2 separate regions of the Homo sapiens genome follow, and region 2 is linked to region 1. The links come from fine-mapping of genetic effects on gene expression. A gene starts in region 1. The other region holds a variant in brackets. All regions are shown on one strand. Distances are between the middles of the regions. Region 1 holds the start of C9orf50 (chromosome 9 open reading frame 50). Region 2 holds the start of ASB6 (ankyrin repeat and SOCS box containing 6).

Region 1 (8,000 bases):
CAAAGAAATTCTGGAGCTATCTCCGAGGCAGCGGTGATGGAAACGGGAGCTTGCAGGTGGGTAGAGCCTGTTAACATTTCCGAGCTTCAGTCTCCTGTCAGAAGAGGAAGTTGAGCAACGTAATAATTACTCAACTTCTGATGCTCTGAGAGGGTTAAACTTGTGGGACATTGCACGTCAGACCTTCAGCTCAGCACCTGCAGTGGGTTCTCAGGAAATGGAAGCTGTTATAATGACAATATCCATCTTAAGTTCATTTTTCCTATACTATTAATAATATCCTTGTGTTGGCAGGGCACGGTGGTGCACGACTCTAATCCCAGCATTTTGGGAGGCCAAGGCAGGCGGATCACCTGAGGTCAGGAATTTGAGACCAGCCTGGCCAACATGGCAAAACCCCGTCTCTACTAAAAATACAAAATTAGCCAGGGATGGTGGTGCATGCCTGTAGTCCCAGCTACTCTGAGGCTGAGGCAGGAGAATAGCCTGAACCTAGGAGGCAGAAGTTGCAATGAGCCTAGATCGCGCCATTGCTTTCCAGCCTGGGTGACAAGAACGAAACTCTGTCTCAAAAATAAAATAATAATAATACTATCCTGGTGTTCCTTCCTCTGGGCGACGCACACAGAAGGTGCTTAAAGTGTGTTTGCTCTAAATGTGTTGAAAGCTACGGTAGAAAGGGGATGCTAAAAAGCCCCTTCTGCATTGAGTCCGCAGGATGTGTGTATGTGCATCTTATTTGGCATACCCTCTAGACTATTCTAGGTCACAACTGCTACCCCTGGTCTGAGCCCCTCTCCCAAGCTTCATTTTCTGTGTCTTTAAGCAAAGGGATTGATCCTGGGCAATTTCAATCGGTGGGGGTGTCCGGAATCCTCCGCCAGGGGGCAGCTCTGATCCAAGCTCTCTGTATGCCTAAAAATCCAGCCCTGTCTTATTTCCTGTCAACAGAAGAGCAAGCCCCTTCCCCACAGCCACGCTCCAAGGCCTTCCCAGGACTGGCCGGCTCCCTGACCTCAAAGCCTCTGGCATCTCTGAATTCCCAAGCCTAGCACATAGTAGTTCCTTGATAAATATTTGCAGAGTGCAAGGGCTGGAGGGCTCCTTAGAAACCATCTAGTTAGGCCAGGCGCAGTGGCTCACGCCTGTAATCTCAGCACTTTGGGAGGCCGAGGCAGGTGGATCACAAGGGCAGGAGATCGAGACCATCCTGGCTAACACGGTGAAACCCCGTCTCTACTAAAAATACAAAAAAATTAGCCGGGCGTGGTGGTGGGCACCTGTAATCCCAGCTACTCGGGAGGCTGAGGCAGGAGAATGGGGTGAACCCAGGATGCGGAGCTTGCAGTGAGCTGAGATCGCGACTCCGTCTCCAAAAAAAAAAAAAAGAAAAGAAAAGAAAAAAAGAAACCGTCTAGTTAATCTGGTGTTTCGCAGCCATTAAAAAAGACACATACCCTTTAAATAAATACAAAAATATCTCCCTCCCCCACTCAATATTGTAGCTCTCCAGGAAAGTATGTCCCTCCATCCCTGGTGAGAAGCATTGACAGAAAATAGAATATATCTTTGGCGACGCGTTCTCTAGTGAGTCACTCTGTTATTTGAATTACAAAGTCGTTTCTTCATTTTCAAATTATGAAACTATGCCACGCCAGTGAAATACTCATGTAAATGACCTCTGTCTCCCACCCCAGCTTCACAATACTATGAGCTTCCTCTCGGCCCTCTCCCAGCCAAGACTCAGAGATAAGGCCCAGGGAGTCCTGAGAAAGAAGACACTTCTCCAGGATCACACAGCAAAACAGCAGACCATGGACTTGAAAGTGGGTCTGTTAATTTCTTTTCTTCCTTCCTTCCTTCCTTCCTTCTTTTTTTTTTTTTGAGATGGAATCTTGCTCTGTCGCCCAGGCTGGAGTGCAGTGGCGCGATCTCCGCTCACTGCAAGCTCCGCCTCCTGGGTTCACGCCATTCTCCTGCCTCAGCCTCCCGCGTAGCTGGGATTACAGGTACCCGTCACCACAACCAGCTAATTTTTTGTATTTTTAGTAGAGACAGGGTTTCACCGTGTTAGCCAGGATGGTCTCGATCTCCTGACCTCATGATCCACCCGCCTTGTCCTCTCAAAGTGCTGGGATTACAGGCGTGAGCCACCGTGCCCGGCTCTTTCTTTCTTTTTTTTTTTATGGAGATGGAGTCTCACTCTGTTGCCCAGGCTGGAGTGCAGTGGCGTGATCTCGGCTCACTGCAACCTCCGCCTCCCGGGTTCAAGCAATTCTCCTACCTCAGCCCCCCAAGTAGCTGGGACTACAGGCACACGCTGTCACGCCCGGCTAATTTTTTTGTATTTTAGTAGAGACGGGGTTTCACCATGTGGCCCAGGCTGATTGCGAACTCCTGAGCTCAGGCAATCCACCTGCCTCGGTCTCCCAAAGTGTTAGGATTACAGGTATGAGCCACTGGAACCTGGCCTCTTTTTTTTTTGTGAGACAGAGTCTCAAATGATCTGTGTAACGGATTAGAGTTGGAGATGTCAGCATGAGCTCATGTTTAGCTTAATATAAGTACAGATGGTTACCTATAGAAATATTTATAGATATGTGTGTGTTTCATAGTATACACACACATTTCTTTGTCAGCTGAGACTGCCTGAAAGAAATGACATCTCAATAGCAAGAAGCACACCTAGCACCCAGACCTTGGATTATTATTATTATTATTTTTGAGATGGAGTCTCGCTTTGTCACCCAGGCTGGAGTGCAGTGGCATGATCTCAGCTCACTGCAACCTCCGCCTCCCAGGGTCAAGCGATTCTCCTGTCTCAGCCTCCCAAGTAGCTGGGATTATAGGTGCACAACACCATGCATGGCAAATTTTGGTATTTTTTGTAGAGACGAGGTTTCACCATGTTGGCCAGGCTGGTATTGAACTTCTGACCTCAGGTGATCCGCCCGCCTCGGCCTCCCAAAGTGCTGGGATTACAGGCGTGAGACACCGTGCCCCGCAGGGTCTGTTCATTTCTAGGTCCATTGTATTCTGACTGCCTGGTCTTGGGGTGGAAGTTCTACTTCCAGAGCCACCCAGCCTAAGCCTCCCAGATCTGGAAAGGGTAGGCCTGGCTGCCCTGGTCAGAGTCCCAGTGCCCCAGGTGGCTGCGGCCAGGGCATCCAGGGCACAATAGCCCCACCCTTAGTCCCCAGGCCTCAGTGCCCACTGCTACTCAGATGCCCAGGGGTGAGGGGCGGATCACAATGACCCTGAAGCGGCCCAGAGGCAGCCGGGAGGGGCTGGGAGAGGCACCAGGCAGGGATGATGGGCTCTACAGCCTGCCTGTAGAGAGCTCTAAACTCACAGGACCTTCTAGGGCCCCACCCAGAAGCCCACCAGGGTGAGTGTGACACTGCCCAGGAGTCAGCTCAGAGCTGACAACAATCTGGGAGTGGGGTGTGGTTGGGAGGAAGCAGGCTTAGAAACCCCTCAGTGTCAGAGCTGGGAGTAAGACTGGGGCTCTGCCTCCCAAAGGGGGAGTTTGTTAAAAGTCTGTGTCTTGGCCAGAAGTGGGGACTCACGCCTGTGATCCCAGCACTTTGGGAGGCCAAGGCAAGTGGATCACTTGAGCCCAGGAGTTCAAGACCAGCCCGTGCAACATAAATACAAAAAAATTCTACCCCATTTCTACAAAATATACAAAAATTAGCCAACTGTGGTGGTGTGTGCCTGTAGTCCCAGCTACTCAGGAGGCTGAGGCAGGAGGATCACTTGAGCCCAAGAATTTGAGGCTGCAGTGAGCTATGATGGTGCCATTGCACTCCAGCCTGGGTGACAGCAGGACCCCGTCTTAGCAAGACCCCATCTCTTTAACAACAACAACAAGAACAACAAACTGTCTTGGCTCCAGCAGAGACGTACTGAATCAGAATGGGGGCTGGGGGTAAGTCATCTGTATTTTCAACAGGCTCCCCACCCAGGGGTCTCTGAGGCAGCACCAGGGCTGGGAGGCTGCTGGTCAGGTCTCTCTTCCCTCAAGCTGGTTCCAGGTTTCCTAATTCCCAGTAGAGCGCTAATGACGGTAACAGTTCCACGCTTTGAACACTGCAAGGCAGGCTAAGTGCTCTCTCTACCAGCGGTGATGCGGTGATGCCGTTTCACGGCTGCAGAGAGGCAGGTGCTGCTATTATCCCCATTCTGCAGACCAGAGCCCCCAGGGAAGGCAGAGGGAAGTTAATTGGCTTGGCCAAGGTTACAAAGCTAATAAGTGGTGGAGCTGGGACTAAATCCTAAATAATAATAACTTTGAAATACTAAGAATGGCAGCTAGTCTATGTGTAAGCTTGGCCAGCGTGCCTGGCACTGTACCGAGCTTGCTGTTCTAAGACTGGCATGTACTTGCTCATTTAAACGTCACAGCAACCCCCAAAGTTGGCTACTCTTGCTGTCACCATTTTTCAGGTGAGGAAACAGAGGCTCTGGGAGCTCTCGCCTGAAGCCACTCGCTGTCCGCCGGGCCGGTGGCGTTCACCCCGCACCGCGCTGCCCCGCCCGGGGCACTATGGCCTGGGGCTGGACTATGCCCTCCCCACCTCAGCCGGCGCCCCCCACCCACGCGCGCTGAGGGTGCGGTGAGCTGAGTGCGGGGCCAAGCATGTTCTGGCGTCGACTTCGCCCAGGGGCCCAGGACCTGGCGCCCAAGGGGCTCCCTGGCGACGGAGACTTCCGACGCAGCAGCGACCCGCGGCTGCCCAAGCTGACCCCGCCCGCGCTCCGAGCGGCTCTGGGCGCGCGGGGCTCCGGGGACTGGAGGATCCCGGGGGGCGGCGCCGCGTGGTGGCCGGAAGGGGACGCCAAGCCCGGGGTGGGCGTCGGACGCCTCCCGCCGCGCCTGCCCGCCTTGCTCACCGCGACCCGGCGGGCCGTGCGGAAGCGGGGGCTGCTGCGGTCCCTGCTGCCGCCTCCCCTGCTGTCGGCCGGCGCGTCCCGGGAATCGGCGCCCAGGCAGCCAGGGCCTGGAGAGCGCGAGCGCCCCCGGAGGCGCGTGGCCAGGGAGGACCCCGACTTCTTGGGCGCCTTCCTAGGAGAGCTCCTCCCCAGCAGGTTCCGTGAGTTCCTGCACCAGCTCCAGGAGAAGTGCGCCGAGGAGCCGGAGCCACTGAGTGAGGCCCCGCGGGGCCCGGGGGGCGGGCCCGAGTCATTTCCGGTGGGGGGTGGTCCCTTGTGTCCCCGCACCCACCACCCCACCACCCAGGCTAGAAGGATGCTAATGTTAGCTGAGTATCTCAGAGCCCTCGCAACCCGTCCTTGAGGGCTGGTCTGCCATCACCCCGAGGCCACATGACTAGAAAGGACCGTCCCCCAGCCAAGGCTCACAACTGTTTCCTCCTGGCTCCAGCATCCCCAGCACCGCAACATCAAAGGGGTGTATTAGAGCACTGCCCAGGGTCTCCGCGGTGTCCCAACTGTTCATTCCTCCCAGACCTGTGGTAAGCGTCAGTCCGCTTCTTGGTGGGGACGGGGTTGCCATCGATGTTTCCAGGGCGGGACAGCCTGGCCACTCATGCCAGATGTGGCCTGTTTGTCTTTAAGGGGCCAGTCATCGCACCTCCAGGATAGTCTTACGAAGATTTCGCTCCAGCAGACACCTATTCTGGGGCCCCTGAAGGGTGATCACTCACAATTCACCACTGTCAGAAAGGCCAACCAGTGAGTGATGGGCGGGATAAGGGTAGGGTAGTGGAGGAAAGGGGCATTTCTTTCCTTCTTTCTTTCCTCTTTCGCCCATGAATGTATTCATTTATCCACCTATCTACCCATTCATCCATCCTTACATATGGCTGTCCGTGAATCAGATCTTCTACCAACCCATTCAAGATTCATTCGCCAGTTCATCAATGAATCAACCCATCCATTAATGAGGTCTTCTACCAACACATAATTCATCCATGAATCTATTCATATATTCATTTTCCCATTCACCCATCCATCTTTGCATCCATCTCATCCATGAACCAAGTCTTCTACAACCCGTTCATGAATCTCTCCATCTATCCATCCATCCTTCTGTCCACCCATTAATCTATCATGGACCCATGACTCCATCCATCCATACATTCACTCACCCACCCACCCATGAATCAGGTGTCCTGTGGATCCATTCATCTACCTGGCCAACCAGCTAGCCAGTCATCCATCTAAAACTCCCACACTTCGGCAGGGCACGGTGGCTCACACCTGTAATCCCAGCACTTTGGGAGGCTGAGGTGGGCGGATCACGAGGTTAGGAGATTGAGACCACCCTGGATAACACGGTGAAACCCCGTCTCTACTAAAAATATACAAAAAAAAAAAAAAAAACACAAAAAATTAGCCGGGCGTGGTGGCGGGCGCCTGTAGTCCCAGCTACTCGGGAGGCTGAGGCGAGAGAATGGTGTGAACCCGGGAGGCGGAGCTTGCAGTGAGCTGAGATTGTGCCATTGCACTCCAGCCTGGGTGACAGAGTGAGACTCCATCTCAAATAAAAATGAAATAAAATAAAATAAAATAAATAAAAAATAAAACTCCCACACTTCTATCCATCCATCCATTGATCCAATGACCAACCATCTACAAATCCTTCCATCCACTTGTAAACCCAGGACACTGTCCATCGCTAATCTAGTCATAAAGCCATCCACAAACCTACATACCCATCTACATAATCATCCAGCCACGCATCTGTCCATCTACCCATACATTCATAGTTCAGTTCTATTCAGACCCTTTCATTAACTCACCCATCAGTCCATCCACCCATCAACCCACCCACCCAGTCTTCCATCATTTTACCCATCCCACCATCATTTGTCCATTTCTTACTCTAACTTTTATTAGGTTTTACTATATGTTGAATATTGGGAGAAAACTAAGGGATGGAGGTAAGAGAAGAGCCTAGGAATTGGAACCTACCTGGGCCTAGACACCATAGTTTTAACAGAGGAGGAAAAGAAGACAGAAACAGTTCCTCCAGGTTAAAATTCCTCCAGGCTTAAGCAGGGGTGAAGGGTGAATGGCACTGCCCATGAGTTTAAAGACCAGGGAGAGTAAATACATCACAAACATATCATTCTTCCTCATCTCATACCCACAGCAGACAAAACTAATGGATCATATTTCCCCACTGAGCCTCAGAACCATTCCTCACACAGTACTCTAGGTAGATACTCCTGATGGATCAGGGTAGGAACTAGAAATGGAACACATGGCCAAGCATGGTGGCTCATGCCTATAATCCCAGTGCTTTGGGAGGCTGAGGCAGGAGGATCGCTTGAGCCCAGGAGTTTGAGACCAGCCTTGGTAACATGGTGAAACCCTGTCTCTACAAAAATTACAAAAATTAGCTGGGCGTGGTGGTGCATGCCTGTGGTTCCAGCTACTCGGGAGGCTGAGGTGGGAGGATTGCTTGAGCCTGGGAGGTTGAGGCTGCAGTGAGCCAAGATCGTGCCACTGCACTCCAGCCTGGGTGACAGAGCAAGACCCTGTCTCAAAAAACAAACAAACAAACAAAAACAGTGAAACACATTTACCAACCTCAGAACGTTCAACCAATCAGGCCAAATATACACATGACTTCTCACAAGATACAAATAAATAAAAGTATGGAATTCATTCTCTCAAATGTGAGCAAAAGCAGAGACAAACACAGTTACAGACTTTCACATTCAAGAGCAAATACTTGAGCACCTTACTGTGTGTGAGATTCCCTGGTAGGCCCTGCAGGGGACACTGTGGTGCCTCAGAACAGGCTCCAGTGGCCCTCGAGTGAAGATGCTGAGATTTCAGGCAGGTGGGCAGAGCTGGGTTATGCCTTTGCCTGGCCCAGCAGCCAGCAGAGAGCAGGGGTTCCTGAGCAGACAACTGTTAGATGACTAGGTCCCAAGGCATGTAGCCAGGCACTGTCCTGACACCTCCCAACTGCTTGGCTCTTTGGAGGCTGATGAAAAGCATTCCCTCTGCATCTACACAGACAT
Region 2 (10,752 bases), 23 kb before region 1:
GACCCCCGGGGCGCTCAGCACCTTCCCACCCTGCTCTGGGCTGCTGACTTACCTCACCTGGGAGAGGCGGGGACCAGGCAGGGCCTTCCATGTGGGCATGGGGGAACAGTAGAGAAAGAGGGGTCCTGCGGCATCCCGTCCCAGGCTCTGGGCTGCCCACCTGGGGGCTTCACTGGGGCCTGGCCCCACCCTTACCTGGCTGTCACAGGCCCCGCCCTTGGACCAAGCACCAGGAACCACCTGGCAGTGTCTGTGCCGGAGTAGGGGGCTCTGGCCGGCAGGGAGGGCTTCCTGGTGGGGGCGGGTAGGGAGGGGAAAGCAAGCCCGGCCATCAGAAGCACAGAGGTCTCTGGGGCTTGTCGCCCTGGGGGTTGGGGCCCCCGAAATGCTCCTTGGTGCTTCTTAGGACAGTAAACAGAATAAGGGAGGGGACAGAAAAAGCCCTTCGCTGGCCCGGCCACTGTCCTGCCACACGGCCCCACCGCACGGCCCCTGCTCCAGCCCCTGCTACCTCAGTTTCTCCCCTGAGCAGACAGACTCTTAGGCCTCTGGGAACCCAGGAATCCAGGCCCTGCCCCTCCAGCCTGAGGACTGTGGCAGGAACAGGCAGGCTGGGCCTCCTGCAGGGACACTCTTGGGTCATGAGGGTCGGGGGTCAGGGTGGGGTCAGGGTGTGGGGGGAGGAGGAAAGGAAAGGAGCGGGGAGCCAGGCAGGAGAAGAAGGGCAGAAGGGGGGGAAGCGGAGGGCGGCACTTCCATGACCACACTTCAGAAATATGCCGGGCCCTCGTCTGTCCCGGTGCCCTGGGGACTTGCCCGGGGGCTGAAGTTGGAGGCTCTGAAATGGTCCTTGTGGTGATGTGTATGTTTCTAAATATCTCACTTTATGGAAATGCCGCCAATCAAAAAAAGAGAAGAAATAAAAGGCAGGGGTTCCCTAATTCTCCCCCTCCAGGGCCTTCTAAGGGACAGGCCTGGCAGCCGACAGCCCCTCCTGGGGAGACAGCAGGCACCGTGGAGGGCGAAGGTGCTGGGATGGGGCCAGACCACTCCTCCCTGGAGCTGCCCAGCCTGGCACGTGTGTGTGAGAGTGGTGTATGTGTGTGGTGTGAGTGGCGTATGTGTGAGTAGTGTGTGTTACAGTGGTGTATGAGTGGTGTATGTTGGTGTGTGTATGGGTGAGTGGTGTGTAAGTGGTATGTGAGTGTGAGTGGTGCGTATGAGTGAGTGGTGTGTGTGCTAGTGTGCATGAGTGATGTGTGTGCGTGAGTGGTTGTGTGTGAGTGGTGTGTGTGTGAGTGGTGTGTGTGTGAGTGGTGTGTGTGTGAGTGGTGTGTATGTGTGTGAGTGGTGTGTGTGTGTGAGTGGTGTGTGTGTGAGTGGTGTGTATGTGTGTGAGTGGCGTGTGTGAGTGGCGTGTGTGAGTGGTGTGTGTGAGTGGTGTGTGTGTGTGGTGCGTGTGAGCGTGTGTGAGTGTATTTCAGTGGTGTGTGTGTGTGGTGTGTGGGTGGTGTGTGTGGTGCGTGTGAGCGTGTGTGCGTGTATTTGAGTGGTGTGTGTGTGAGTGGTGTGTGGGGTGCATGTGAGCGTGTGGGAGTGTATTTGAGTGGTGTGTGTGCAAGTGTGAGTACGCGCTTTGTGGGGCTCCAGTAGGGGTTGGAAGCCAGGCCCTGGGTGTGAAGCCCCCTCCCTGGGCCCCTCACTCACTGACCTTGGCTTGGTCAGCCATCTCTCCTAGACTCTGACACCAGAGTCCTGGGGTCACTTCCTGGGGTGTCGCGATGAACTGATGAGACTTGTTGAGCTTCTTACTGAATGCATGGGAGTAGGACACACTCGAGCAGAGACCACAGTTGCTGCCGATTGGCCATTCCTACAGCCAGCCTGGGCGGGTGGGCGGGTGGACTCACGGCCACTCGGGAGGAAAGTGAGCGAAGCGCTAGTCCAGGTTGAGGGGACCTCAAGGGTGAGTGGCCTGCGTGCTGAGGAGGAGGCTGTCAGTCCATGGGCTGGGAGAGGGAGAAGGCTTTATGGACAGGCCTGGACCCCCTGCTGGTGTTCAGGGCCTGCCTTCAACCCCAGGAGGGGTGTCAGGGCCTGATTCTCTGCCCTGGGCTTACATAATGTTTTATTAATAAGTCTCAGGTAAGACACACTCATTGGAGAAAAAAGAGGAAATATATCCACATACAAAGAAGAGTAAAAATTCCCAGATCCCAACACCCAAAACAACCACCATTAACATCTCAGCATGGGGCGTTCAAGAATGATTCCTGCACACACACACACACACACACGTGCACACACACATTTTCCTAAATGGGACCATATGGTACCTGCTATTCTGTAATGGGCTCTGTTGGATTGTTATAGAGAAGGACCCCACGTGTTACCAGCTACCATCATTGTTGGACCGCAGGAGAGGCTGAGTGTCTATCCCTGTTTTTTGACCATTTTTCATCCTTCGTGACTTGCCTGTGCATGTCCTTTGCCCATGTTTTTATTGGTGTTTTTGCCTTCTTGTTGTTGATTTTTAGCAGCTCTTTATATATTAAGGTCATCCCCCTCTGTACATTGACGAGTCGGAGTGACTCCCAAACTCCCCGAGGACTAGGAGGCAGGGACAGGGCTGAGCTCTGGGTCCTTGTCCCCAGGACCCCCATCCTGCTGAAGATCTCTGGAGGTGGGTGGCAGGAAGGGGCTGGGCTGGCCAGGCGGTGAGTGGCAGTGACAAGGAAAAGAGAGAGAAGCGGAGAGCTGGAACCAGGGGCTCTGAGTGACAGAGCCCTAATGGGAGGCAGATGGAGGAAACAAGTCTGCCCTTGCTGACAGGAGGGAGGTCAGGGGGCACAAAGCCCTCTAAAGTTAGGAGCCTGGGCGGCGGGCAGGCAGCAGGGCCAGCCCCACAGGGTGGTGCCCCAGGGCTGTGAGAGGGCGGGGGTTAGCTCCCCCTCCTGCATGTCCAGACTCGTGAGCCCAGAGCTGGAGGAGCTGAGGACACTCGAGTCTCGGAGGCAGGAAGCGTGGAAAAGTTGCACCGACCGGGGCTGGAGGCCCAACCTCACAGTGCAGCCTGGGACAAGCGCCCAAACCTCTCTGAGCCCGTTTCTTTGTAAAATGGGGTAATAATATCACCTACTTAACAGGATTTAGGGAGATCAGTGCACCAAACATTCAGCATATCTAGTGCCTGGCATGTACAAGGGTCTCCGTAAATACAAGTGGGCTCGTGTTGTTGTTATTATAATGGCCCCCTCCTCACTCCTTCTCTGTCGGCGGAGCCCACCAGCCACGTCAAGGAGTTCGTCATTGGCTCCAAGACTGTCAGAGCTGGGAGGGCCCTCAGGTTATAGGTGAGGAAACTGAGGCCCAGAGACCAGAAGGGCCATGCCTAGGGTCACTCGTGACAGTGGGTTTATGTGTGCTCCCCAAAAAGATATGTTCCAGTCCTAGTCCTGGTGCCTGGAACGTGACCTCGTTCAGAAAAAGGGGTTTTGCAGATGTAATCAAATTAAGATGTGGCCATAATGGATTTGGGTGCGCCCTATAAATCCAGTGACCCATGCCCATTTAGAAAGGAGGGGGAAGGCTGGGCACGGTGGCTCACGCCTATAATCCCAGCACTTTGGGAGACAGAGGCGGGCGGATGACAAGGTCAAGAGATCGAGACCATCCTGGCCAACATGGTGAAACCCTGTCTCTACTAAAAATACAAAAAAAAATTAGCTGAGGGTGGTGGCACACGCGCACCACTGCACTCCAGCCTGGCGACAGTGCGAGACTCTGTCTCAAAACACAAAACAAAAAAGAAAAAGAAAAAGAAGGGAGCGGGGGATTTGGACAGTGGCATAGACAGCAGGAAGAAGGCTGTGTGGAGACAGAGGAAGGTGGACACTGGGGTGCTGCTGTCCCAAGCCGAGGTACCCCTGTGGTCACCAGGAGTGGGAGAGGCAAGAAAGGGACCTTCTCTGGAGTCTTTGGAGGGAGCGTGGCCCTGCCCACACCTTGAATTTGACCTTTCCGCCTCCAGAACTGTAAAGGAGTGAATTTCTGTTGTTTTAAGCCATCAGGTCTGCAGCACCTTGTTATAGCAGCCCTAGGGCAAAAGCAGGGCTCAGACGAAGTCAGCCCACCCAGCTCCACCGGGACCCCACGGGACTGCACCTCCCGCAGTTACTCACCATGCGCCCTTGGGTAAGTCAGGCCTCCGTCTCCTGAGGGTTGAGGGCCAAAGGCCATCACATAGGTGAGGAGACCGAGGCCTGACTCAACACGGGCATGGTGTCACGTGATCAAATGTGTTGTGTGATCAAACGAGAGAGGGGCTGTGAAGACCTGGGTCGCCTGAGAGCGGCTGTACCGTTCAGGGCCTCGCGATCCATTGAGGGGGACCCTTCAAGCAGGGGCAGACACTTCCAAACGCTCAGAGTCATGCCCAGGCAGGTGCACCCAGGGCAAGCACCCCATCTGGATGCAAATCGCTGTCTGGTAAGAATCTGGGCCCTTCTGATTTTTACAAGGCAAGTTGGAAAATCTCCATTTCCCTGGGAGCAAAATGTCCCGATTTCCCTCAGGAAGATACTTCTTTCCCTCAGCAAGAATCAAGGCAGACATGTGTGGGGAGCCGTGGGCCCTCGTAGTCTGCAGTTGCTTCTGGGACGCCCAAGCTAGTGTTGCCTTAAAGGGTCTTGAACCCAGCTGCCCACCCCCACCCCTCCTTCCTACTCCTTTAGGTAATGGAAGAGGAAGCAAACTGAGGCACTCTGAATGCCTGGCGTCGGAGG[T/C]GGTTTTCCGAGAGCCTGTCATTGGATCTGACAACAGCTTTAACAACCAGAGCCAGCAGTTACCAGCCGCTGCTGCCACACCCTCAACCTTGCCGGTTGAGGCTCGTTGCTTTGGGTTTTCTTGTACAGTTTGTTTTGCACATGGTAGAGGGCCTTACTCTGCCCATTTAAAAATGTTTCATCTGGCTGGGCGTGGTGGGCTCACGTCTGTAAGCCCAGTACTTTGGGAGGCTGAGGCGGGTGGATCACCTGAGGTCAGGAGTTCGAGAATAGCCTGGCCAACATGGTGAAACCCCGTCTCTACTAAAAATACAAAAATTAGCCTGGCGTGGTAGCGCATGCCTGTAATTCCAGCTACCTGGTAGGCTTGAACCCAGGGGTTGGAGGTTGCAGTGAGCCGAGATCCTGCCACTGCACTCCAGCTTAGGCAACAGAGTGAGACTCCGTCTGAAAAATAATAATAATAATAATAATAAATAAATAAATATAAAAATGTTTACTCTAAGACCCATCGGATTGTCTTGAAATGCGCCTTTAAATGTTTTTTTCCTGGGCTGGGCAACTCTCGCTGTCTGGCAGGTTCCAGGGAGAGGGGCCCAACTTGGCAGAGCAAGGCCCAGGAGGCCAACGCTGTGATGTGGACTGCTGGGGCGGGAAACCCCTCTTCATCATCAGCTTCCCAGAAGCAAGAAGGCATCAAGGCCCCCCCACGCAGACTCCAGGTGGGAGAGGAGGCTCAAATGCATGGCCCAAGGGGAGGTGCCTCGACTCCAGAAAAGTGGTTTTTCCAAGGCAAGCTGGAAATGTCCATTTCCATGTGAGCAGAATTTCCCGATTTCACCCAGGGAGAAATTTCTTTCCTACAGCGAGAACCAAGGCAGAAACGTGCTGGCAGCTGTGGACTCTGCGGCCTGGAGCTGCTTCTAGGAAGCCCAAGCTGGTGTTGCCCTAAAGGGGCTTAAACCCGGCTGCCCACTCCGCCCCTTCTTCCTGAACCAGAGGGTTTTGGCTCCTTCCCACTGAATTCCACTTCCACCAACAATTACAGTGCGCTGGCTCCAGCATCTCAGGTGAGTGTGATTATACTTTTTTTTTTTCTTTTTGAGACAGAGTTTCGTTCTTATTGCCCAGGCTGGAGTGTGATGGTGCGATCTCCACTCACTGCAACCTCCGCCTCCCGGGTTCAAGCAATTCTCCTGCCTCAGCCTCCCAAGTAGCTGGGATTACAGGCGCCTGCCACCACGCCCGGGTAATTTTTGTATTTTTAGTAGAGACAGGGTTTCATCATATTGGCCAGGCCGGTCTGCAGCTTCGAACTTCTGACCTCAGGTGATCCACCTGCCTCGGCCTCTCAAAGTGCTGGGGATTCTACCCATTTTACAGATGAGGAAATCCAAGTTCAGAGACAGGCGGTAGCACACTCCTGTGTTCCCAGCTTCTCGGGAGGCTGAGGCGGGAGGATCACCTGAGCCCAGGGGTTCAAAGCTGCAGTGAGTCATGATCACTACACTACACTCCAGCCTGGGAGACAGAGTGAGACCCTGTCTCTAAAAAATACACAAGATTCGGGCTGGGCACCGTGGCTCATGCCTGTAATCCCAGCACTTTGGGAGGCCGAGGTGGGAGGATCACGAGGTCAGGAGTTCGAGACCAGCCTGGCCAATATGGTGAAACCCTGTCTCTACTAAAAATACAAGAATAAGCTGGGCGTGGTGGCCAGCGCCTGTAATCCCAGCTACTCGGGAGGCTGAGGCAGGAGAATCGCTTGAACCCGGGAGGCGGAGGTTGCAGTGAGCCGAGATCGTGCCATTGCACTCCAGCCTGGGCAACAGAGCGAGACTACGTCCCCCAAAAAAACAAAAACAACAACAACAAAAAACAAGATTCACTGAGTCCATCAAGGCAGAGGTGGAGAGGGCTAGCAGCCGTCCTGGCCAGGTGCTCCCCGGGACAGAGAATAAGAAACTGAGGAGGGGACGTGCGAGTACCCTGGTCCTCATCATTCCAGTCAGCGGGCCGGGTGGTGACAGAGGTGGCCCAGCCCCTCTTCAGGGAAGGCGAGGGCCAGCCCGAACCGGAAGGGGCAGTGTCTGATGACCACAGCTCTCAGGGGCGCCCAGGGCCAGTGGGGCAGCGGCAGGGCCGAGAGCACGACCGGCGGAACTCGGACGGCGCCCAGCGGTCGCGGGCGGGATCGCAGGGCGAAGCCGAGCCGGGCCGGGCCCTGGCAGGAAGGGGCGGACCCGCCTGAGTCTCGGATCTGGCTTGGCTCGATCCTCCACTCTCCCACTCCGCTGGGGCCGCCCACTGGACATCGCCCGAGTCGGCCTGGCGGTCGTGCCCCAGGACGCGCCGAGGTCCTCCGAGCCCGCAGGGGGCGCTGTCGCCATATGGCCCACCCTGAGTCGGCGCGGGCAGGAAGTACGAGGGTCACTTCCGGCGGGGGCGCGGCTTGGACTGAGGAGCGGACCCGGCCGGGCGCAGGGGCTGGACTGGCGGAGCAGGTGGGGTCCGCGGCCGCCGGAGCGTTCCGGTCGGCGTCTGGGCATCTCGGCCTCGGCAGAAAGCGCGACGGCCCTGCTGCGCGGGGCCCGCGGCGATGCCGTTCCTGCACGGCTTCCGGAGGATCATCTTCGAGTACCAGCCGCTGGTGGATGCGATTCTGGGCTCCCTGGGGATCCAGGACCCCGAGCGGCAGGAGTCTCTGGACCGGTAACTCACCCCCTCCCGTGAGCTGGCCGAGGCCGCTCCGACCCCGCAGCGTCCCACTTTATCACCACAAGCCGGGCGGGGTGGATGCGTCCCCCTTGACAGAGGAAGGGACGGGCGGAAGCCGGGGTTGCGTGGCTCGGAGTGCGCGCTGCCCCGCGCGGATCCCACTCCTGCCCCTTGCATGGCGGAGACGAAGGGCGGGGAGGGCCCGAGGGCGGAGGCCCGCGGGTTGTCGCAGGGCCTGCGCCTCAGCCCCACCCTGTCGCCTGCCTGTCCTGTGCCACCCCCCGGCGTGGCAGAGGAGCAGGGTGGAATCCGTGAGGCCTCAGATGTTACCCCAGAGCAGTGTGAAGGTGGGCTTTTGTAGCAGAGTTTGCGTTTTTATAGACAAGAGCTGGTCTGTCGTGGACCTGCAGGAAAGGGGTCGGGAGCGAATCTGCATTCACTGCCCATGGTACTAGGCACCTGGGGTCCATCAGTGGCTCAGCAAAACCCCCGCCTTCTTGGCGCATGTGCTCCAGAGGAGAGACTGACAAGTAATTGTACGGCGGCACGCGAGGTGGAAGGGAGGGGAGAGCAGAAGGAAGGGGCTCGGCTCAGGTGTTGAGGGGGTTGTCAGTTGGTATTTCCAACACGTGGTAATGATGAGTCTCGCCATCCAGGGACTCTGGTGGAAACGTAGGCTTTCTTCATCAATATCAGCTGAAGGTCTCAATGTGAGGGGAGGGAGGAGGCTGTGTTGCTGTCCTGGCTGCAGGTGTTGCCGGGGCTGGGGTCCTGCGGGTTTGAGGATGGAAGGGCTTTCTGAGGAAGAAGCATCAAAGTCGGGCTTGGGCTCTTGGCCTCCAGGCTGGTGGTCCCTTCAGTCCCAGCAGCCCAGGTGTGTGAGGCTTTGTACCTAAGTCTGCGACCGGACTCTGGGCAACGCGGGAGGAGAGCGCAGACAGACCCAGCCCATTCTCCGCAAATCCCAGTCTGCTCCCGTATTAAGAGATGCAGCGTGGCCCTCTCTCTACTTCAGAGCTTCCCCCAAGCCCCTGTGACCCACAGAGCCAGGGCCCTGCTTGCTGATGATGATAGCAGGACTAAAGCCCACCAACCCACAGGCTGCGCGGTCACCCGGTCCCACAGCTGTGCCTACCCTCAGCCTCTCTCCTGTCCCAGGCCCAGTTATGTCGCCAGCGAGGAGAGCCGAATCCTTGTTCTCACTGAGCTGCTGGAGAGGAAAGCCCACTCTCCCTTTTACCAGGAAGGCGTGAGCAACGCCCTGCTCAAGATGGCTGAGCTGGGGCTGACGCGGGCGGCCGACGTTCTCTTGCGGCATGGGGCCAATCTCAACTTTGAAGGTCAGCGAGAGCCCCGGGGGTGGGCAGGTGGCTTAAACGCGGCCCGACGCTGGGTGGGCGCCCATGTCCCCAGCCTTGGCTTCTACCATCCTCTGAGGAGTGACTTCCCCCCCTTTATTTCCTGGGTGGCTGCAACTAAGGAAACTCCCATTGGGTGGCCTCCCACCCCCTGCGGGTTTTCACATGGCTCTTCCCACCTCTGTTCCAAGAGCGAGTGTTGCTGCTTCTACCATGTGATTGATTAGCAAACTTTCCCCAGCTCCCAGATTAATCCCCACTTCCATTAATGCAAAAATGCGGCTGCTGGCACTGTGCCCAGAGCTAAGGGAAGGTAATTTTCTGCTACTTACTCTGAGCCAATTTGTTTTTTTTTTTCTCATGCCGTAGGGAGAGGGGAAAACAGGCTGCATTAGGCATAAATCACCACAGGACACCCTGGCTCCTGGCTCCTGAGTGCCAGGGATGGAGATGGAGCCGAGCTCCTTTCTCTGTGTTTTTCAGCCCAGGGAGGGCAGGGTTAGTCGGCAGACAGGCAGGGCTGCCTTGTGACCTAATAGGGGCCTGAGACAGCCAGGCACGTCTCCTTTCCCCATCCGAAGACGGGCTTGGAGTCTGCTGGGCTCCTGGAGGGTCAAGGAGCTGAGACGGGAGGGCCGGTTCTGAAGCCAGTGACTTGGAGACCAGCTTGGAGAACCTGGCTGTTACCACCAGGCCTACAAAGCAGAGCCGCCAGAGCTGCTGTGTAGCGCGGCCTCCCAGCCATTCTGAGAGGGTGCGCCCCGTTTTATGGTCCCTTCTTACAGAAGAGGAAACTAAAGCCCCCAACAGCTTCAGTAGCGTGCCCACTAGAACACCCCGAGGGCCCTCTAGTATCTGGTGAGGACAGCTCTGTCCTAACCCTTGATGGTGACAGGAGGCTGGGCCTGTGCTTCTGGACACTTTAGGTGGGAGTTTGGGGCTGGGCTCTGGGTCCGGGGGCCCCATAAGAATGCGGACAGATAGGACCCACATGAGCTGTGTCTGCACCTTCAGACCCAGTCACCTACTACACGGCCTTGCACATCGCCGTCCTGCGGAACCAGCCGGACATGGTGGAGCTGCTGGTGCATCACGGGGCCGACGTTAATCGGAGGGACCGGGTAAGTGCCAGGTCCAGCTTGCTTTGAAGCAGGGTTGGGCAGGGGCCTGAGCAGCTTCCCAAGCCAACCTGGCTGTGCTTCCTTGGCTCAGATCCACGAGAGTAGCCCCTTGGACCTGGCCAGCGAGGAGCCTGAGCGCCTGCCCTGCCTGCAGCGCCTCCTGGACCTTGGAGCTGATGTCAATGCCGCTGACAAGCATGGTGGGTGCCTCCTGCAGGAAAGCAGGACAGCTGGGCCCCCAGGCACCTTGTGGGGGACACCCAGGGTGCCCCAGGACAACAGCTAGGTGGGCAGACTGGATGCTGGCCCTGGCTGGTGGCACAGCATGGCTGGGCACACAGGGATTCTGCTGACTTGCTGAGCTCAGAGGCTTCAGAGAGGCAGTGCAGTCATTGTCCCTGTGCTGGCCCTCAAGGGCCTTCTATAGGAAGAAATAGGGCATGTGTGCACTTAGTTTCCAAGAAACAATGGCTTCCCATTGGGAGAGGCCCAGCCAACATCTCAGGTAGCATCTTGGGGTCCAGAAAAATCCTACCTTTCCTGGCCTTTCCGCTCCCACTTCTCTGGGTGGAAAGGGAATGGCCAGAAGCCTGTCACCCTCAGCCCTCACCTGAGCTGAGAGTTGTCTCTGAAAGTTCATCTTCTGATCCTCTGAGTGTCTGGATTTCTGCCACCTCCTCTGGGTTGCCCTGACCTGGGCTTCCTGGCCTCCTGCTCCTCCTTGCTCTCCCTCCCTCCCTAGGAAAAACTGCTCTGCTCCATGCTCTGGCC

What was found. PIP is the estimated chance that this variant, and not a neighbour inherited with it, causes the effect.
Region 2: its variant is fine-mapped to the expression of C9orf50 in thyroid (GTEx, PIP above 0.99).

What each region holds. Positions count from the first base shown.
Region 1 is chr9:129,617,217-129,625,216 of GRCh38, reverse strand. C9orf50 (chromosome 9 open reading frame 50) reads left to right here and starts at 4,116. Exons shown (of 7, transcript NM_199350.4): 1 at 4,116-5,150; 2 at 5,387-5,477; 3 at 5,581-5,697. The coding sequence starts at 4,643. It also overlaps a transcript of NTMT1 not described here. RefSeq lists enhancers at 934-983, 994-1,133, 4,004-4,654.
Region 2 is chr9:129,638,631-129,649,382 of GRCh38, reverse strand. ASB6 (ankyrin repeat and SOCS box containing 6) reads left to right here and starts at 7,232. Exons shown (of 6, transcript NM_017873.4): 1 at 7,232-7,496; 2 at 8,661-8,842; 3 at 9,875-9,981; 4 at 10,073-10,181; 5 at 10,724-10,752. The coding sequence starts at 7,384. RefSeq lists enhancers at 1,250-1,998, 8,172-8,728, 8,729-9,286 and a silencer at 6,866-7,465. The variant T/C (reference allele first, on the strand shown) is at 4,785.